3 separate regions of the Homo sapiens genome follow, and all the other regions are linked to region 1. The links come from fine-mapping of genetic effects on gene expression. A gene starts in region 1. Each other region holds a variant in brackets. All regions are shown on one strand. Distances are between the middles of the regions. Region 1 holds the start of SYNGR1 (synaptogyrin 1). Region 2 overlaps LOC100506472 (a long non-coding RNA gene). Region 3 overlaps SYNGR1 (synaptogyrin 1).

The links. PIP is the estimated chance that this variant, and not a neighbour inherited with it, causes the effect.
Region 2: its variant is the best candidate, but not a certain one, in a credible set for the expression of SYNGR1 in whole blood (TOPMed, PIP 0.87).
Region 3: its variant is the best candidate, but not a certain one, in a credible set for the expression of SYNGR1 in whole blood (INTERVAL, PIP 0.85).

Annotation. Positions count from the first base shown.
Region 1 is chr22:39,347,779-39,354,220 of GRCh38, reverse strand. It overlaps SYNGR1 (synaptogyrin 1), which reads right to left and starts at 4,230. Exons shown (of 4, transcript NM_004711.5): 1 at 4,112-4,230. The coding sequence starts at 4,210. RefSeq lists an enhancer at 2,751-2,800 and a silencer at 4,024-4,183.
Region 2 is chr22:39,435,749-39,443,342 of GRCh38, reverse strand. It overlaps LOC100506472 (a long non-coding RNA gene), which reads right to left. Exons shown (of 4, transcript NR_040535.1): 4 at 6,215-7,594. It also overlaps a transcript of TAB1 not described here. Among named protein-coding and RNA genes, the nearest start is that of MGAT3, 17 kb to the left of the region's middle. The variant G/A (reference allele first, on the strand shown) is at 3,097.
Region 3 is chr22:39,368,405-39,375,998 of GRCh38, reverse strand. It overlaps SYNGR1 (synaptogyrin 1), which reads right to left. Exons shown (of 4, transcript NM_004711.5): 2 at 1,446-1,683. Among named protein-coding and RNA genes, the nearest start is that of SYNGR1, 22 kb to the right of the region's middle. RefSeq lists an enhancer at 1,570-2,085. The variant C/T (reference allele first, on the strand shown) is at 3,720.

The DNA of each region.
Region 1 (6,442 bases):
CAACATTTCAAACATTTTATCATTTTCATTTTGTCAAAGTAGAGAATTAAAGAAACATTGACTGGGCACGGTGGCTCACACCTGTAATCCCAGCACTTTGGGAGGCTGAGGCGGGTGGATCACTAGGTCAGGAGTTTGAGACCAGCCTGGCCAAGATGGTGAAACCCCGTCTCTACTAAAAATTTAAAAAGTAGCTGGGCATGGTGGTGGGTGCCTGTAATCCCAGCTATTTGGGAGGCTGAGGCAGGAGAATCACTTGAAACCAGGAGGCAGAGGTTGCAGTGAGCCAAGATCGCGCCACTGCACTCTAGCCTGGAGACAGAGCGAGACTCCATCTCAAAAACAAAAAACAAACAAACAAAAAACTCATCTGCCAGCACTGATATTCATTCCCTATAGTCCATCTTAGCCCCCTGCAAAAAAGAATATAAACTCCAAATAAAAGGTGGTCCTTTCTATTAAATCAGTTTAGCTTCTTGCTGTAACTCCTTTTTTTCCCATCTGGCTTTAGAACAAAGAAATGAGTCACTGACAGGCGGCAGTCACCGCGCAACAGATCAGGCACTTCTGACCCAGCCCAGCCCAGTTCGGGTGGGAAGACTGAGGCACAGAGGGTGGGGAGGGGACACTTACTGAAGGTCACAGCTGTGGCCTGGGGGTGCCAGGAGTGGCAGCTGATCTGCCACTGGGGCGATGACACCAAGAGGTGAGAAAGCCTTAGTCAAGAGACAAGCCATGCCGGATGCAGTGGCCCACGCCTCGCCTCATCGTCCCAGCTGCTCACAAGGCTGAGGTGGGAGGATCACTTGAGTCCAGGAGTCTGAGACCAGCCTGGGCAACACAGCAAGATCCTGTCTCTAAAAAAATAAAAAAGAGACAAGCCAGGTCTTGGAGGCCCTGCTTCTGTGCAGGCTGACCCAGGGGCTCAGAGGGCTTGGGTTCCAGGGTGGGTCCAGGTTGGTGAGGCCCTGAAGCTTACATGATTTGGGGGCCCTCTTTTGGAAAAGCAACAGAAAAAAAAATCTTTCTTTTACAAATTTTACAAAAATCCCAGGTCCAGGCCGGGTGCGGTGGCTCACGCCTGTAATCCCAGCACGTTGGGAGGCCAAGGCAGGTGGATCACCTGAGGTCAGGAGTTCGAGACCAGCCTGGCTAACATGGTGAAACCCCATCTCTACTAAAAATACAAAAATTAGCTGGGCGTGGTGGTGTGTGCCTGTAGTCCCAGCTACTTGGGAGGCCGAGGCAGTAGAGTTGCTTGAACCTGGGAGGCGGAGGTTGCAATGAGCCGAGATGGCACCATTGTACTCCAGCCTGGGCAACAGAGCAAGACTCCATCTCAAAAAAAGAAAAAAAACAATCACAGGTTCATGTGCACATGCTGTTAGGGCCCCTCCAGGGCTGTGGTAGGGGTCTGGGTTGTCCAGGAGTCCTGGACAGGGTGACAAATTGTCCCTGTTTGTCTGGACTAAGGGCCTCTCAGAATGCTAAAGGCAGGAAGTTCCAGCACACCAGGATAAACGGGTCACCCTGGTCCTGGAGCTCAGCTTCACTTGCTCTGCCCTGTGGTGTGAGGGCCAAGAGCAGGCGCCAGCTGCATCCCCCGCAGCTCCTGATGTGTTTAAATGGCTCAGCACGCCACACAGTTTCGAAAAGACCAGAAGGAGACAGCACCCTATTCACTGCAGCCCTCCCTAAGTGGTGGTATCACATGATTACCACCCCCCACCAAACTTTTTCTGTTGTGGTAAAACACACGTAACATACAATTTACCATCTTCACCATTTCAGTGGTGTTAAGTACATTCCTACCGTGCAACCATCACATGTGATTTTTATACTTTCCAATAATTGGCAGGTATTACTCTGATCAGGAAAAAAAGCTACTTTTAAAGGTGTCAATCAGCCTGTATCAGACACCTCTTGGTTCGACAAAGGTAGTGAGCGCCTTGTATCCACGTGTGTGAGCAGGACTGGGAGGCTGTGGGGTCGTTTGAGCATTGGTTGGTCCAGGTGACCTTTGTGTCCTTTCCAATCCTGACATTCCAGGATTCTGGATTCTTCCCTGCCCCAGGGGGAGAACTACTCTTTGGAGACAGGAAGACCTAGGCTCAAATGCTCGTCTGCCACTTACATGCTTAGTGACTTTGGGCCAGGCACTTGGCCTCGCTCGCTGAGCCGCAGCTTCCTCTAGTGTTGGGGAACCAGCTAGGTAGCTGTGTGTGGTCTTGCACCCCATGGGTGCTCAGAGGGGCTGATCCTTCCTCCTGCTTTCCACGTCCTCTCCCCTGGATGTGCATATGTATAAACCCTCATCCCACCAGGCCCAATCTGACATCACCTTCACCATGAAATTTGATTCCACAGCAGGGAGACCCCTCTCCTGGCTCTTGCGGCCTCTGCCTGGGGGCACCTGGCTCACTCCCCAGTGGGACTGTGGCTTCCCGAGAACAAGGGCTGCTTCTGAGTCACGCTGCCTTCCCTTGGGGCCCAGCAGATTCAATAAAGCTTTGCTAAATGAAGGCATCAGAGGCAGAAATGACCCAAGCAGACAAGCCCCCTCACAAAGCCAGTGGCTTCGCCCTTCCAGGCCAGAGGCCCAGGGGTGGGCAGACTAAAGCAGTGAACGCAGCCCACCCGCCTGATCCGGCAGGTGCCCCCCAGGGCTCCCACCTTTGGCAAGGGTCTGTTGGGGCATCTGGGGAGCAGGAGACTGGCACAGATAAATGAATTCAGAGCCACAAACACAGATGTGCTGGGGTGCCCGGCTCTGTGCAGGCACCGACACAAGGGTTAAAGGAACTGGGCTTTCCTGCCCTCAAACAGCTCCCATCTGACGGCATTTGAGAAGAAAAGGCTTTAAATGGGGTCATCCTTCGCAGACCAGGGATACATACCCAAGCCATCCTACCAACCAGACCCTGAAAACCAAGGAAAGGAGGAAGCTTGGGCACCCTGAGGTCACAGCTGGCCTTGGGGTAGCCCCTGGGGTCCCTGACAGTCTAGCCCATTCCTAGTCTAAGCCCACAAGGAACGGGCCCCAGGCCTGCAGAGGCCAGAACCTCGAGTGGGAGTTTCTGGGATACAGCCAGCCAAACCCAGGGAGCCCCAGAAACCCCCTCTCCAGACCCCAGCAGGGCTTCTTTCCATGAGGTGCCACTCAAGGCACCTGAACCCCTCCCTCTGTGCTCACTGTCTCTGACCCATCCTCTCCCTGACCACCCGTCTGAACAAGAGCCCACTCAGCCCTCTGCACTGAGGACCCTGCCCCCCAGCTAGGCTGGAGGCCACCCTGGCCTCTTCACTGTGGGAGCAGACCTTTCTCCCAGACACCCGCCTTGGGCATCCAGGTGCATGCTGAGTGGGAGGGGTGTTACCGGTTCATGAAATGTCAGAGCCCAAGGGGGCCTCAAGAAGGCTCCGCCCACCTTGTCTATAAATTGGGAAACTGAGGCATGAGAGAGGAGATGACACTCCCCACCTCGGAATTGAAGTCCTCATTTCTCGAGAACATTTCCTGGGTGGCTCCCAGCCCAAGGTCACGCAGAGAAGGAGAGGCAGTTCCCGGGTGGAAGAGAGGTACTCAGTTCCCGACTCATCGCTCCACACGGGCCGGGCTAGGCAATACGAACCCGGTTCCCGGCCCTCTCCTCCTCCAACGTCCATCGCAGGCGCGGCATGCACCCCACCGAGATGGTCCACGCCCTGATCCACCCCCCAAAAAAGGCCACCTTAAACCCTGGCTCCGTCCCCACGGTCCCCAGTCCGCCCTGGCGGCCGCGCACAATCCGAGCCTTTCGCGGCATAGCCGCGGCCTGGAGGTCACAGCAATCGGGGCGGGAAGGGGGGCGCACGAACCGGGGGCCCCAGGAAACCAGGGCTCCGGGAGCCGGAGCGGCGTCTCCCGCGAGCACCAGGGATCCCGCCCGCCCCGGGCCCGGGAAGGAGGAGCGGCGGCAGCGGGCCCCGCAGGCAGGACAGCTCCTCGCCCGCCGCCGCGCCGCCGCCGGGGGCCCGTTGGGGTCGGGGTCGGGGTCGGTCCGGGCGCGCCGCCTTTGCTCACACCCCCACCACCCCGGCCTGGCAGAGCCGTCGGCCAGTCCGTCCTTACCCAAGACACGACGCGCAGGATGGTGTGCGGCTGCCGGACCAGGGTGTAGGGGTCGAAGGCGCCCCCGGCTTTGCCCGCTCCGTACGCACCCCCTTCCATCGTGGCTGCACCCGCGCGGTGCCCCCCGCTCGGCGCGCGCCGCCGGCCCGTGCGCGTGCGCGGCGCCCCCGCCCCCTCCCCTGCGCGCGCGGCCGGCGGCCCAGGGCTCCCGCGAGGGGGCGTCGTGCGCGGCGGGCGCAGCTCGCGGGGCGCGGGCGGGGGGCTGGGCAGCGCGCGACCTCGGGCGCGGGGGCGCGCGTGCTGCGGCCCGGGGCTCAGGGCGCGCTCGCAGCCAGTGCGGTGACCTCTTTGCAAAGTGTTTGGGGGAGGGCGGTGCGTGCACAGCAAGTGTGGGCCGTGTCCCTGCCCCGCATCCCCGGTCCCCTGCCCCGGTCGCAGCCCCTCTGAGCCGTCGGCTCTGCTGAAACCATCTTCACGCTTGATTTGTTTGGCTGTTTCCTGCCACTTTGTCGGCCCCAAATATAATGAGAGGGCAGGAGCTGTGTTCGTCCTTCTTAGAGGGTGCTTGGTACGCAGTAGGCGCCGCATGAATATTTCTCGAATGAATGAACCACGAGTGAATGACCCTCTCTTACAGCCCTCCAGAGCAGCCCCCACCTCCCAGGACCACCCTTCCCCTGCCTCTTACGATGACGTCATGTGTGTCCCTGTGCCCGCGCACCCTCCCACCCCCAGCCTGGAGGGGCCTGGCACAGAGGCGGCGGCTGAGACTTCCTCTTCCCCATCCCCTCCTACCCCAGAACGTTGCCCCTTTCCTGAATCTAGCAATTAATTACGCAATCATTTGTTCATGGCCTCTTCTGCTGCTAGTCTGTGAGCTCCCGAGGCCCAGGTGTTGTCTAACTTATTCAATGCCTTACCCAAGGGCCTAGCATACAGTAGGTGCTCAGTAAACAGAGCCTAGTCCCCATCACCCCATCACAGCTTGGGCTAGACCTCCAGGTTTCATGGAAACGGAGGCTAGATGGAGGAGTGCTCCCTGCAGGGGAAGGGCCACCTTCCAGGGCTGGCTCTCCTGCTGCCCTGTAGCTCTATGGCCTCTCTATGTCTGCAGTCACCTTCACTGGTTCCAGGAGCAGGTTGGATGAGGATATGGGTGGAGGCTTTTGCTTCTCTGGTATCCTGCCATTCTGTGATGACAGGACACAACATCTGTGTGGAGGAAATGTGTGCTGGGCCTGAGGGTGCTCCTTATAAAAATTACATAGTCAATGTCCATCTTAGGCTCAGCTGATTGTTTAGTCTCTACCAGGCCTTGTGCTAAGGGCTTTACATACATTTTCACATTTAATCCAGCACACTTATAAGGTGTCTACTATGACTATATAAAACTTTTAGAAGAAAGCACAAGAGAAGGCCGGGCGCAGTGGTTCACGCCTGTAATCCCAGCACCTTGGGAGGCCAAGGTGGATGGATCACAAGGTCAAGTGATTGAGACCATCCTGGCCAACATGGTGAACCCGGTCTCTACTAAAAATACAAAAATTAGCCGGGCGTGGTGGCGAGCTCCTGTAGTCCCAGCTACTTGGGAGGCTGAGGCAGGAGAATCACTTGAACCCAGGAGGTGGAGGTTGCAGTGAGCCGAGATCGCGCCACAGCACTCCAGCCTGGCAACAGAGCGAGACTCCGTCTCAAAAAAAAAAAAAAAAAAAAAAAATCATGAAGAACATGATTCATAAAAGAAACAATTGATAAACTGGACTTTATCAAAATTAAGAACTTCTGTTCTTTAAAAGACATTGTTAAAAGAATGTATGAAAAGACAAACGATAGTCTGGGAGAAAATATTTGCAAAGCATAGATCTAAAGAACTTGCATCCCAAATAAAGAACGTTCGAACTCAATAATAATAAGAGGACCCACTTTTTAAAAAATGGGCAAAAGATTTGAATAGTTATACACCTCACCAAAGAAGATATACACACGGCAACTCAGCACATAAAAAGATGCCCAGCATCCGCGGTGGCTCACGCCTATAATCCCAGCACTTTGGGAGGCCGAGACGGGCAGATCATGAGGTCAGGAGATTGAGACCATCCTGGCTAACACGGTGAAACCTCATCTCTAGTAAAAATACAAAAAAAAAAAAAAAAAAATTAGCCGGGTGTAGTGGCTGTAGTCCCAGCTACTCGGGAGGCTGAAGCAGGAGAATGGCGTGAACCCGGGAGGCGGAGCTTGCAGTGAGCCGAGATCGCGCCACTGCACTCCAGCCTGGGCGACAGAACGAGACTCTGTCTCAAAAAAAAAAAAAAAAAAAAAAAAAGAAAGAAA
Region 2 (7,594 bases), 89 kb before region 1:
GACAGAGTCTCGCTCTGTCGCCCAGGGTGGAGTGCAGTGGCATGATCTCGGCTCGCTGCAACCTCTGCCTCCCGGGTTCAAACGATTCTTGTGCCTCAGCCACCTGAGTAGCTCAGATTACAGGTGTAAGCCACCATGCCCGACTAATTTTTGTATTTTTAGTAGAGACAGGGTTTTGCCATGTTGGCCAGACTGGTCTGGAACTCCTGACCTCAGGTGATCCACTCACCTTGGCTTTCCAAAGCACTGGGATTACAGGCGTGAGCCACCAAGCCAGCCTGGCCCAGCAGGATTTTCATCTTGCAAAACTGAAACTCTGCACCCATTAAATATTAACTCCCCATTCCCCTGCCCCCCAGCATCTGTCAATCCCATTCTACTTTCTGTCTCTGAATTTGACTACCATAAGTGCCTCGTCTGAGTGAGACCGTATAGTATTTGTCCTTTTGTGACTGCCTCATTTTACTTAGCATAATGTGCTTAAGATTCATCTACATTGTAGCATGTGTCAGAATTTCTTTTTTTTTTAAGGCTGAATAATATTTCATTGTATGGATAGAACGCATTTTGTTTATCCATGGACATCTCATCCATTGATGAGTTGCCTCCACCTTTTGGCTGATGTATACAATATTGCTACCAACATTGCCACACGAGCATCTGAGACTTTGCTTTCAGTTCTTCTGGGTGTATACACAGAAGTGGAATTACTGAGTCGTATGGTAATTCAATGTTTAATTCAGAACTAATGTTTAATCTTTTTTTTTTTTTTTTTTTTTTTTGAGACAGGGTCTCGCTCTGTTCCGCAGGCTGGAGTGCAGTGGCATGATCTTGGCTCACTGAAATCTCCACCTCCTGGGCTCAAGTGATCCTCCCACCTCAGCCTCCAGAGTAGCTAGGACCATAGGCACGTGCCACCACACATGGCTAATTTTTTTGTGTTTTGGGTAGAGACGGTTTTTTGGGGGATTTTTTAGACAGAGTCTCGCTCTGTCGCCCAGGCTGGAGTGCAGTGGCACAATTTCAGCTCACTGAAACCTCCACCTGCCGGGTTCAAGTGATTCTTCTGCCTCAGCCCCCCAAGTAGCCGGGATTTCAGGCGCACACCCATACCCGGCTAATTTTTGTATTTTTGTTTTTTGTTTTTTTCAGTAGAGATGGGGTTTCACCATGTTGGCCAGGCTGGTTTCGAACTCCTGACCTCAGGTGATCCGCCCGCCTTGGCCTCCCAAAGTGCTGGGATTACAGGCGTGAGCCACTGTGCCCAGCCTCGCCCCCACTTTTTTTTTTTTTTTTTTTTGAGATGGAGTCTCGCTCTGTTGCCCAGGCTGGAGTGCAGTGGCATGATTTCGGCTCACTGCAACCTCCGCCTCCTGGGTTTAGGTGATTCTCCTGTCTCAGCCTCTCGAGTAGCTGGGCCTACAGGCACCCACCACCACGCCCGGCTAATTTTTGTATTTTTAGTAGAAACGGGGTTTCACTATGTTGCCTAGGCTGGTCTTGAACTCCTGACCTCGTGATCTGCCCACTTCGGCCTCCCAAAGTGCTGGGATTACAGGCGTGAGCCATGCGCCTGGCCTGAGATGGGGTTTTGCCATCTGAGCCAAGCTGGTCTCAAACTCCTGGATTCAAGCAATCTACCCGCCTCAGCCTCCCAAAATGCTGGGATTATAGTTGTGAGGCACTGAGCCCAGCTTAAACTTTTAAGTTGATGGGTACATGTGCAGGTTTGTTACATAGGTCAGTGTGTGTCATCGGGGTTTGTTGTGAAGATTAATTCATCACTCAGCCTAGTACCCATTAGTTATTTTTCCTGATCCTCTCCTTCCTCCCACCCTCCACCTTCTGAAAGGTCCCAGTGTGTTGTTCCCCTCTGTGTGTTTGTGTGTCCTCATCATTTAGCTTCCATTTATGAGAACATGCAGTATTTGGTTTTCTATTCCTGTGTTAGTTTGCTAAGGAGAACGGCCTCCAGCTGCATCCATGTCCCTGCAAATGACGTGATCTCATTCTTTTTTATGGTTGCTCAAGACTAATTTTTAAGGTGGTTATTCAGATGATCCTAAAGAGGATTATAGCCTATTTGGGTTTTTTTGTTTGTTTGTTTTTTGAGATGGAATCTTGCTCTTGTTGCTCAGGCTGGAGTGCAATGGCATGACCTCGGCTCACAGCAACCTCTGCCTCCCGGGTTCAAGCGAATTCTCCTGCCTCAGCCTCCCAGGTAGCTGGGATTACAGACACCCACCATCACACCCAGCTAATTTTTTTTTTTTGAGTAATTTTTTTGTATTTTAAGTAGAGATGGGGTTTCACCCTGTTGGCCAGGCTGGTCTCAAATTCCCGACGTCAGGTGATCCACCAACCTCAGCCTCCCAGTGCTGGGATTACAGGTGTGAGCCACCACACCCAGCTGCCTATTTGTTTTTAATTCATAGACTTAAAATGCACTATAATTTAAAACTCTCATCCTCTTCAGAGTATACAGAGCCTCCAGTCTGAAACAGTCTAGAACTGGACCATCCATTGGTGTGACCTCGAGCCATAGCCATGAAGCCCAGATCATGCTGGCCTGCACAGAATTATTCTGTACGGGTAAAATACAGCTGGATTTTGAGAAAAGGTTTTACCCCCGTCGCTCAGGCTGGAGTGCAGTGGCATGATCATGGCCCACTGCAGCCTCGACTTCCCAGGCTCAGATGATCCTCCCACCTCAGCCTCCTGAGTAGCTGGGACCACAGATGTGTGCCACCACCTCTGGCTAATTTTTGTGTATTTTTCAGTAGAGACGAAGTTTCACCATGTTGCTCAGGCTGGTCTCAAACTCCTGGACTCAAGCGATCCACCTGCCCCTTTTTACTTTTTCAAATGTGATTATTAGAACATCTAAAATGGCATATGGGCCAGGAGCAGTGGCTCATGCCTGTAATCCCAGCACTTTGGGAGGCTGAGGTGGGTGGATCGCCTGAGGTCAGGAGTTGGAGACCAACCTGGCCACGATAGTGAAACCCCGTCTCTACTAAAAATACAAAAAATTAGCTGGGCGTGGTGGCGGGCACCTGTAATCCCAGCTACTAGGGAGACTGAGGCAGGAGAATC[G/A]CTTGAACCTGGGAGGCGGAGGTTGCAGTGAGCCGAGATCATGCCATTGCACTCCAGCCTGGGCAACAAGAGCGAAATTCCATCTCTAAGTAAATAAATAAATAAAATGGCACATGGGCCAGGAGCAGTGGCTCATGCCTGTAATCCCAGCACTTTGGGAGGCAGGCGGAACATGGCAACACCCCGACTGTACTGAAAAATACAAAAAATTAGCCGGGTGTGGTGCTGCATGCCTGTGGTCCCAGCTATTTGGGAGGCTGCAGTGGGAGGATCGTTTTAGTCTAGGAGGTGGAGGCTGCAGTGAGTAGTGATCACACCACTGCACTCCAGCCTGGGTGACAGAGTGAGACTCTGTCTTAAAAATAAAATAAAATAAGGTGGAATGAAATGAAATAATACAACGGCACGTGAGGCTCACACTCTCTCTCTGGACTCTTCATCCTAGAGGACCAATTCAGGTGCTTTGTGAGTCCAGAGGAGCCACCTAGAGTTCTTCCTTCCAAGCAGAGGAAGCCTTGGGCTGGTTCCTCAATTTCACTGGGGTGAAATTCACATAGCATACAATTAACCGCTTGAAAACTGCAGGTCAGTGGCACTCAATGCATTCACCAACACCTCACCCCAGAAAAACACGCTGGCTCTGTTACCAGTCTCTGCAGTTTCCTCCTTCCCCCAGCCCTGCTTTCTGTCTCTATGGATTTGCCTATCACCGGCATCTGTAGGAGGAATCATACATGTGACCTCTTGTGACCAGCTTCTCTCATTAGCACAGTGATTTTGAGGCTCTTCCTTGTGGTGGCCTGTCAGTGTCATTCCTTTTCACGGCTGAATACTATTCCGTGGCGTGGAGGCAGCACAGTCTGCTTCTCCTCTTCGGATGGATATCTAGGTTGCTTGTGACATTCGGCTATGATGAGTAATGCTGCCGTGAACACTTCCGTACTGTTTCTGTATGTTTGTGTTTCCTGGGAGTGGAATTGCTGGCTCATATGGTAATGGCTGGTTCCTTCTATCTTTTAACATTCACTTTGCTTATCAAAAGTTCTAGATACAGCTGGGCATGGTGGCTCATGCTTGTAATCCCAGCACTTTGGGAAGCTGAGGTGGGTTGGGAGGCCAAGGCGGGTGGATCAATTGAGGTCAGGAGTTCAAGACCAGTCTGGCCAACATGGTGAAACCTCGTCTCTAGTAAAATACAAAAATTAGCTGGGTGTGGTGGTGGCTGTAATCCCAGCTACTCGGGAGGCTGAGGCAGGAGAATCACTTGAATCTGGGAGGCGGAGGTTGCAGTGAGCCAAGATTGAATCACTACGCTCTAGCCTGGGCAACAGAGCGAGACCCAATCTCAAAAACAAAAACAAAAAAAAAGAAAGTAAGTTCTAGATACACAGACTCTTGATTTCACTGAAGGGAGGTGGGGGGTACTTGTTAGGGACCCCCCATGTCAGTATTTTCAGGACTTTGTTGTGCGTCAGATTCTCCAGCGAGGAGCCTCAGTGTCCTGCTGGAGGGTGAAGACTGGGCTGTGTGCTGGGAGCTGGGCAGGGCAAATGGGGTCCCAGTGCCCAGAAGCACCCGACTGCTCTGCTTCCAGTGCTGTGGCAGTGCCGCTATCTCTGGGTGGACTCTGGTGAGCGGAGGACGGGACTGCCTGGCCATTCTGGGTGGGAGACCGGGGGACCTGACTGCGCCTCATTTTGCCCCCACCTGGGACTGCTGGCTCACGCTGAGCTTTCGGTGGTTCTTCAGGGTAAACCACACTGGTATTCAGCTGCCATCACACACCTGGGATGTAACTTCTGTGTCCCTTAAGTCAGTTGCCACTCTACATCGACTTTTCAGCTTCAAAACCTGTGTGGATGTTGTCTCCTGATTGCTACAACCTTGTGGGTTTATACCTGGAAGGAAGGAAGGGAGGGAGGGAGGAGGGGAGAGGGAGGGAAGGAGGGAGGGAAAGAAGGAGGAAAGAAGGGAGGGAGGGAGGGAGAAGGGAGGGAAGGAAGGAGGAAGGGAGGGAGGGAGAAGGGAAGGAAGGAGGGAGTGGGAAGGGAGGGAGGAAAGGAGGAAGGGATGGAGGGAAGGAGGAAGGAAGGGAGGGAAGGGGGAAGGGAGGAAGGGAGGGAGTGAGGAGGGAGGGAAGGGGGAAGGAGGAATGGAGGGAACGAAGAAGGAAGGGAGGGAGGGATGGATGGCGGGAGCAGAGGGAGGGAGAAATCCCTCCCTGTTGTTTTAAGGGGGTTTGAGAAGGGAGGGAAAGTGGACGAATGTGTTTAGCCCGTCATCTTTAGCAAAGCTGCCAGCACAGGAGGAGCCTGGCAGTCAGTCCCAGGAAGCCCAGACCCCTCAGGAGCATTCCAGGGCCCGGTGCAGAGCCCACCTGCTCTGGGAAGGTTCCGGAACTCATCAGACAGAAGGGGTCTCCCCTTGGCCTGGGTCTCAGGGCCCATTCTGGCCGTTTTGGCCAGACTTCCAGGTGTAGTTTTATCTTCCGCAGAGACTGAGCCCCTGCAGGGCCGGAGTATTAACAGAGACTTTCTGACGGCCTCCCCTCTCCCCACCCTGCCAGCCTCAGCCCCTACTTGGCGGCACACCTGGTGCCTGGTGCCCGGCAGGCTTTGTTGCTGGCTAGAGGTAAAGGGAGGGCACACCAGGAAGCCAACACAGCCATGGCAAAGGCTCGGAGGAAAGGAGCAGAGTGGGAGGGGACATCCCTCTCTGTCATCTCCGGATTTCTTTCCACCTGTTCTTGAAAGTTTCTTGGATTTTTGGAGACAGGGTCTCACTCTGTCACCCAGGCTGGAGTGCAGTGGCACGATCTCGGCTCACTGCAGCTCCGCCTCCCAGGCTCAAGCGATTCTCCCACCTCAGCTCCCCCTACCGGTTCTCGAATCTTATTCCTGGGTCTGAGGCCCCAGGGTGGTTGAAAGTTCAGGAAGGCTGGGATGGGGACGTTAGCTGCAGGCCACCGCACTGAAGAGGCTGATTTAGGCCCCGCTGGTCCCCCCGACTCACAGCCACCCTCCTGATGAGGTGCAGCAGGCATGAACCCTTGGGCCCACCATCCTTTCAGGGGGCTGTGGAAATATTTTACCTTTAAAACAGAAGAAAATGAACTTTTACTCAAAGAGAAATTTTAATGTATTAATATATTTATCTTTCTACCAATAGTCATAAAGTATAATTTTAATTTTTTTTTTGCAGAAGAGGCCCATGAAAGTCACAATGCATCCATGCCCCATGCCCAGGGCCACCCACATCTCGGGCCACACCTGATGGAAGGTTGGAGTCCTTCTCTCAGAATAGCTGGGCCCAGTGTCACAAACACTGCCCCGTGCAGGGTGCTGGGACCTAGAGAACATGGGTCCTAACCAGGAACCCCAGAGTCACTGCAGACCAAGTTCCAAGAGCCCTGAGCTCACCAGAACAGAGGACAGCCTTGGGGGATAAGTCCCTGGAAAGAAGATGAGAGTGAGCTGGGTCCTGAAGGATGGGCCATTCTAGGTGAGGGAAGCCTCAGTGGACACAGATGCATGAGGGAGGGGGTCTGCCCAGTCCCGGGGAGGGGGCGGGGCCTGGCCTGGCACGAGAAGATCCCAGTGCACAAGTCAGACCAGGCGACAAAACCCCAGGATGATCTCAGCTCCCAGAGGGCCCCTTGGTGTAGGCGCTTCCTTCCTACCCTGGGGTCAGGCTGCCCAGGAGGTTTAGTTGGCACTGAGGGATGGCTGTCAAATCGCTTGCAGGCCTGGAAGGGTCTCTGAAAATCAGGAGGAAACTTCATGACACATGAAGAAAAGTCCAGAGTTTAAATCTTTGCTCCTGTGTGATCTTGGGCAACTTTCTAAACCTCTCTGAGGCCACGGATACCAACTCTTTGCCAGGTTAAATGAGATATTACACGTCAGCTACATACCTGGAACGTAGTTAGAACTCCTTTTTTTTTTTCTTTTTTTTGAGACGGAGTCTCGCTCTGTTGCCCAGGCTGGAGTATAGTGGCACAATCTCCACTCACTGCAACCTCCGCCTCCAGGGTGCAAGTGATTCTCCTGCCTCAGCCTCCTGAGTAGCTGGGACTACAGGCATGCACCACAACGCCTGGCTACTTTTTTGTATTTTTAGTAGAGATGGGATTTTACCATGTTGGCCAGGCTGGTCTCAAACTCCTGACCTCAGGTGATCCACCTGCCTTGGCCTCCCAAAGTGCTGGGATTATAGGCGTGAGCCACCGTGCCCAGCCAGAACCTACTAGTTATTTTTATTTTTTTAAAAAGCTGAGCTGTAAACCTTCATTTGAAGATGAGATGGGGATCAAAGAGATTTATGGGCCAAGGTCGCCCAGGGGCACCCGGGAGGTGGGACTTACAGAAGCACCAGGTCAGGAAAGGTCACGTGGTCTTGGGGCAGGCTGGAAGATGGGAGGCTGTCAGCCCCACCTCCTATCAAGCCAAGGACTCTGTATCTTCACTACCACCCCCTCTTCATGGCCAAAGGACTGTGC
Region 3 (7,594 bases), 21 kb before region 1:
GTGAGTGGGGAGAAAATGGGGAAGCCGAGGAACAGAGGGACATTCAAGAGTGCATCTCCCATGCTCCCCCACCCCCAAAGGGACAGGCAAAGGGGGTAGGGGAAGAGAGAGGGGAGCCAAGAGAAGATGCAGGCGAGAAGAGGGAAGCCAGCCAGATGCAGGGGGGAGGAGGCCACAGACAGGGCAGGGTCAGGGCCAGTCAGAGGAGAGCCACGGGCAGTGAGAGGGGAGGATGGAGGGAGAGACAGAGAAAGAAGGTAATCAACTCAGGCCGCATTTCTGCAGCCTCTGCCAAACCCCCATGTCCAGCCACACCGCTGACGTGGGCCCCCCCGGTCCACCCCTGATGCCTGCAACTCTGCAGGCAGGAAGACCCCAACCCTCAGGCTGCCAGACAAATGAGGTATGGGAAGGAGGACGAGGCTGGGGCAAGGATGGCAGCTTGGCTGGGTGGGTCTGGGCTTCGACTTCTAACGTGCTGCGACCCCACAGAGCCCCAGGTTTAGCGAGGGGCCCACTGAGAGCCGAGCCTGGGGGCGTCAGCAGTGGGAGCCTCATAGCCACGCAATCTCCTGTGAGTGCCAAGGTCTCCCCAGAGAAGCCCAGACCTGCTCAGGACAAGGCGTGCATCTGCCAAGCAGGTGGGGTGCCCACCTGGGGCCCAGCCCACCTCCCAGAGGCACTGCCAGGGAACCCTGAGGCTCTGTGGAAGTTTGAGAACCATTCATTTAGTTCTAGTTCCTTCTAAAACTAGACCTCATGACCTGCCTTCAGCCTGGCTTATCCTGAGAGCTCCAGGCTTAGAACTAGGGGTTGGTCCCAGTCCGGGGACCCAAGCCTCAGAACAGCGAGGCTGAAGCCTCGGGTTCGGACCCCTGACTGAGAGCATCCACCAATCAGATTCCTGGAAGTCACGGAGCAGAGGTCAGGGTGCCTCTGCCAAAGGCTGCTTCTGAAGGGCAAAGGGCAGCAGGTCAGGTTGGCTCCACAGGTCCAGGCCCTGGTCCTGCCAAGGTCTGGCTGGGAGGCGTGGGGAGGCTGAGGCTCCAGGGCCCCTGCTGTGCACTGGGCACCCAGTCACCGCCTTGCTTAGTCCTCATGAGGCTGCCCCAGGGAGGTGGCACAGAAGAGGCCACTGAAACACGGGCCAACCCATGGGGGCTGGCACATGCCCAGTGCCATCCATGGGTCCCTTAGACTAGAAGGAACTAGAATCCCATCCACGCTCCCCTGCCTGTGGGCAGCATGGGTTATTTTGGGGTCCCAGGCCCTGTCCTGGTCCCATCCTTCCTGCTGCCAGCCATGTGACCCTGAGTCCATCCCTTCACCCGCCTGCACCTCATTTCCTCATCTGAAACATGGGAAGAAGGGTGGCAGCCGCCTCCTATGGCCGGGACAGCCCTCTGTAGACTCTGTGCAGGGGGTACCTGCTGGGTGGGGCTCACCCGAGACACCGATGTCGGACAGGACGGCTTTCTTGCGGTCCTTGACGCTGCTGATCTGCGGGAAGTACACGTCCAGGGCCAGGTACAGCAGGCAGGTGAGGAAGGCGAGCACGCCCACGGCCACGCCATAGCTGCAGGCGTTGGGGTTGCGGTTGTAGATGCAGAACTCCTCCCCCTCGGAGGCGCTGTTGAGGTAGCCCTCGTTCACGATGGAGCCGAACACCACTATGGAGAACAGCTGTCGGGGGTGGGGCCACACCTTAGACCTGGGCAGACCCCTGCCTCACACCACCCAGGGGACGGGGAGGCTGCCACCCTCGCCTGCTGCCTGGCCCTCCGTGAGCTACAAGACCCGGGTTAAGCAGGCATTTCAGAGGGGGATCCCCAGAGAGGGAGGGTAACTTATGTGGGTCACATAGCACCAGGTGGGGGTCAATCACTTCCTTCCTCAGCCACAGGCACTGAGGACTCTCTGACCATAGATGTGGCCCCTTCCAACACCCCTCAGCCAGGTCCTAAAGGTCTTCCTGGGCCCTGACACCAAGATATCCTGGGACTGGACCGACTCTCAAAGAACAAGGAGCCACAGGCCCTCCTGGGCTGTGGACCTGCCCAGCCCCCACCCCCAGGCTGACTCCTCCAGATGCTGGCATGTGCCGGGCCCCATCTTGTGTTCTCCTTCCCTCTGCAGAGCTGTGGGCTGGTCTGGGGTCTCAGGCCCCTACCCAGGCCTGGCAAGTAGATGGAGTGATGAATGAAAAAATAACAGTGGGCTGGGGGTGGTGGCTCATGCCTGTAATCCCAGCACTTTGGGAGGCCAAGGTAGGAGGATCACTTGAGCTCAGCAGTTGGAGACCAGCCTGGGCAACATGGCAAAACCCCGCCCCTACTAAAAAATAAAAAAATTACCCAGGTATGGTGGTGCGTGCCTGTAGTCTCAGGTACCAGGGAAGATGAGGGGGAGGATCTCTTGAGCCCAGGAGGTGGAGGTTGTAGTGAACCGTGATCATGCCACTGCACTCCAGCCTGGGTGACAGAGAGAGGCTCTGTCTCAAAAAAACAAAACAAAGCAAAACAAAAAACTCTCGGGCCAGGCGTGGTCGCTCACGCCTGTAATCCCAGCACTTTGGGAGGCAGAGGCGGGTGGATCACGAGGTCAGGAGTTTGAGACCAGCCTGGCCAACATGGTGAAACCCCGTCTTTACTAAAATACAAAAATTAGCTGGGCATGGTGGCGGATGCCTGTAATCCCAGCTACTCGGGAGGCTGAGGCAGGAGAATCACTTGAACCTGGGAGGTGGAGGTTGCAGTGAGCCAAGATTAAGCCACTGCACTCTAGCCTGGGCAACAGAGCAAGACACTCTCAAAAAAAAAAAAATCTATCTATGTGTGTGTGTGTGTGTGTGTGTGTGTGTATTAAATAGAAAATAACAATAGACACAATCCTGCCAGATACAGGGCACCCTGCATGATCCCAAGGGTATATTACACATGCTATCTCACTGACCCCACTACAGGATATGGCAAGAAGTGATGGGATATCACTTCTGGGAGTAAGTGACAAAGGATTTCTGCCTCCATCTTGCTCGTCCTCTTCTCCCCCACTCCCTGGTTGCTCTGATGAAAGCTGTTGTGTTTTGGACTACCCTTTGGAAAGACTGCATGGCAAGGAACTGAGGGTCTTTAGCCAACTGCCCACAGGGAACTGAGCCCCTCAGTCCAACACCCACAAGTAATTGAATCCTGCCAATACCATGTCAGTGAGCTTAAGAATGGATCCACCCAGGCCAGGCACAGTGGCTCACGCCTGTAATCCCAGCACTTTGGGAGGCCGAGGTGGGTGGATCACCTGAGGTCAGGAGTTCGGGACCAGCCTAGCCAACATGGAGAAACCCTGTCTCTACTAAAAATACAAAAAGTAGCCAGGTGTGGTAGCACATGCCTGTCATCCAGCAACTTGGGAGGCTGAGGCAGGAGAATTGCTTGAGCCCAGGAGAACTGTTTGCTGGGCCTGGGCGGAGGTTGCAGTGAGCCGAGATTGTGCTATTGCATTCCAGCCTGGGTGACAGAGAGAAACTCCGTCTCAAAAAAAAAAAAAAAAAAAAAAAAAAAAAAGAGCTGGGCGTGGTGCATGGTGGCTCATGCCTATAATCCCAGCACTTTGGGAGGCTGAGGTGAGCAAATCACGAGGTCAGGAGATCAAGACCATCCTGGTTAACATGGTGAAATCCTGTCTCTACTAAAAATACAAAACATTAGCTGGGTGTGGTGGCA[C/T]GTGCCTGTGGTCCCAGCTACTTTGGAGGCTGAAGCAGGAGAATCGCTTGAACCCAGGAGGTGGAGGTTGCAGTGTGCCAAGATCAACCCCACTGCACTCCAGCTTAGGCAACAGAGTGAGACTCCGTCTCAAAAAAAAAAAAAAAAAAAAAAAAAGAATGGATCTACCCTCAGTTGAGCCTTCAGATGAAACCACAGCCCTACCTGATGCTGTGATTATAGCCTTGTGAGAGACCCTGAGGCAGTGGCACCAAGCTTAGCAGATTCCTCACCCACAGAAACTGTCAGATAACAAATATTTCTTGTTATAAGCCTTATGTTGTAGGGCAATTTGTTGTGCAGCAATAGCTTGCCAATACATCCTGCACCATCAGCATTTTGCAGATAAGACAGTTAAGGCTCAGCTATTGTTAACACACCCAAAGTCACACAACTGGTCAGTGACAGAACCTGGCTTCAAACCCAGGGTACCTGACTCTAAAGTTCACGCTTTTTGGCTGGGCATGGTGTCTCACGTGTGTAATCCCAGCACTTTAGGAGGCTGAGAAAGGAGGATCACTTGAGTCCAGGAGTTCAAGACCAGCCTCAGCCTCCTGAGTAGCCGGGACTATAGGCGTTTGCCACGATACCTGGTTAATTTTTTGTATTTTTAGTAGAGATGGAGTTTCGTCATGTTTGTCAGGCTGGTTTCAAACTCCTAACCTCCAGTGATCCACCAGCCCCAAGCCTCCCAAAGTGCTGGGATTACGGGCGTGAGCCACCATGCCCGGCCAGAAACTATAATTTCTTTTTTTTTTTTTTTTGAGATGGACTTTCGCTCTTGTTGCCCAGGCTGGAGTGCAATGGTGCAATCTCAGTCCACCACAACCTCTGCCTCCTGGGTTCAAGCGATTCTCCTGCCTCAGCCTCCCGAGTAGCTGGGATTACAGGCATGCGCCACCACATCCGGCTAATTTTGTATTTTTAGTATAGATGGGGTTCCTCCATGTTGGTCAGGCTGGTCTCAAACTCCCGACCTCAGGTGATCTGCCCACCTCGGCCTCCCAAAGTGCTGGGATTATAGGAGTCAGCCACCACGCCCGGCCTCAGAAACTACAATTTCAATGTGAGTTGAGCATATTTTCTTCCTGGGTGATGCCCAGGATGGGTAATGATTCCAGGACAGGTATGTGAAAAATATGAGAAGCATTCTTAATATTATCTTATCTCTGTAAGATGTCTATAGTTTACATGGATTTTATAATGCACAGGATATATTAGTACAGTAGTAGCATATATGAAACCAATAAATCTACATTGAATGGGAGGATTGGTGCAAACATTTTTCCTGAAAGGAGCACGATTAAAAGTTTAGAGACCGGCCAGGTGCGGTGGTTCATGCCTGTAATCCCAGCACTTTGGGAGACCAAGATGGGTAGATCACTTGAGGTCAGGAGTTCGAGACTAGCCTGGCCAACACGGTGAAACCCTGTCTCTATACTAAAAATACAAAAAATTAGCTGGGCGTGGTGGCACACAACTGTAATCCCAGCTACTCGGAAGCCTGTGACAGGAGAATGGCTTGAACCTGGGAGGTGGAGGTTGCCGTGAGCTGAGATTGTGTCACTGCACTCCAGCCGACAGAGCGGGACATTGTCTCAAAAAAAAAAAAAAATGGTTAGAGACCTCTGGGTTAGGATGTTGTGTGTTAAGGGGGATTCTGACCTAAATGTGCACAGCAGATGAATGGGGACACAAAGTGTGGTACATTCATAAATTGGACAATTTTTCAGCCATAAAAAGGAACAACCAGCGTGGGCAACATTGTAAAACCGCATCTCTACAAAAAATACCAAAATTAGCTGGGTATAGGCCAGGCGCGGTGGCTCACACCTGTAATCCCAGTACTTTGGGAGGCCGAGGCGGGTGGATCATGAGGTCAGGAGATTGAGACCATCCTGGCTAACACGGTGAAACCCCATCTCCACTAAAAATAAAGAAAATTAGCTGGGCGTGGTGGCACGTGCCTGTGGTCCCAGCTACTCAGGAGGCTGAGGCAGGAGAATTGCTTGAACCTGGGAGGTAGAGGTTGCAGTGAGCCGAGATTCGCCACTGCACTCCAGCCTGGGCGACAGAGATCCGTCTCAAAACAAAACAAAACAAAAATTAGCTGAGTATGGTGGCATGCACCTGTGGTCCCAGCTACTTGGGGGACTGAGGTGGGAGGATTGCTTGAGCCTGGGAGTTTGAGACCAGCCTGGGCAACACAGCAAAACCCCATCTCTACAATAAATAAATTACAAATTATAAAAAAGAAAAAAATGTACACTGAATTATACAACATTAAAATGGTATGTTAGGCTAATCTGGCCACAGTAAAAAAAAGAAAGGATTCTGAAGCTGTGTTCAGCCCATGGTTCAGCCATGGGCACAGAGGTGGGCAGTGGTGGCCCGTGAGCCACCATTTGCCAGTCCTGATTTGGGAAAACCCCATGACCATGAGACTTCAGACCCGTGAGGGCATCGGGGCCCACAGCTCTGCCTCCCACAGGCTCTGCAGCCTCACCATCACCCCTAGAGTGGAGAGGGCTATTTGTAGTGTTCCCAATTGGCAGAGTAGAAAAACTAAGGCTCAGAAAGAGAAGGTGGCACTGTTGTCAGCAGCACAGGCTGAAGTTGAACCCAGGTCTCCTGATTCCCAGACCTGTGTTCTTTTCCACCTGGCCAAGCTGACTCTCAGCCTCTGGAGGTGGGCCCTGAAGAAGGGATGGAATTTACTCCCAGAGACCCAAGGGATCAGGCAGAGGACCAGCAGGGAGGAAGGCCGGGAGGGTAGCTTCAGTGTGACTGGGGATCAGGCGACTCGATTCAGTCTCAAGTCTGGTGCTCAGAGGCACAGTGGGGAGCGCCTGTGAAGTCAGGACAGAGCCATTGTCAAAGGGGCTCCTGAGCTACTGACAAACCAAGACAAGCAAGGCAGACTCTGAACACTGGGAGATGTGCAGTACACGGCCAGCTGCTTGGGCCGTGGACTGCACAACTCCAGGGACTGCTAGTCACACAACCCCTTGCACTGGTGTACTGCAACAAGTCCAAGGCTCCTACCAGAAAACTGTCAGGTTGGGAACCTGAGGCCCAGTCCTGGATGTCACCAGATGCCACCAAACCAGAACAGAAAAGGCTCCTGATCAGAAAGAGACTTCAGACACTGAGGAATCATACAGACCCGCCAATTCAAATCCAAGGCCTGCTGCTTATGCTGGGTAGCCTCAGGCAAGTGACTTAACCTCTCCGAGCCTCAGATTGGTCCTCTGTAAAAATTAACATCCCCTCTGGGGCAGATGGGAGAATTAGAGCAAGTACCCAGAGCAGAGCTTTGGAAGCCCCATAGGGGCTGCATAACGTTCATTTCCTCTCTCAAGGCCCCAGAAAAGAGGAATAACACCAGGAAGGCCCCTCTCGAACACTTACTAACAGACACATGCTTCCGGGGGCTGGAGGAGACCCCACTGCTGCCAGCGCTGAAAATAAGTGTGGATCTCCTTCCAAAAACAGAACAATATCAGGCTCCCTGAAGACAGAGAGGAGGTGGGAGGGGAAACAGGCAGGCAGAAGCCTGGGCCCTGGGGACAGCAGAGGAGGAACCATTAAGACTGGGCTCTCTTGGGAGACAGAGGCAGGCAGTCCTCAGAGAAGCCAGGAGGAAAGTGCTGGAGAGGATGTGTCCCCAAGAGGGTGCAGAGCAAGAACAGAATAGCTTCGGAGGGACTGGGCGGGGCCGTATGGCCCCAGCAGACACCCGCCTCGGTCAGGCATTCATCACAGGTCACAAGTTTCTCAGCTCCTGGCACTGCGCTGGGAGGGGCACCAGGCGGTAATTCAGTCCAAGAGACCCT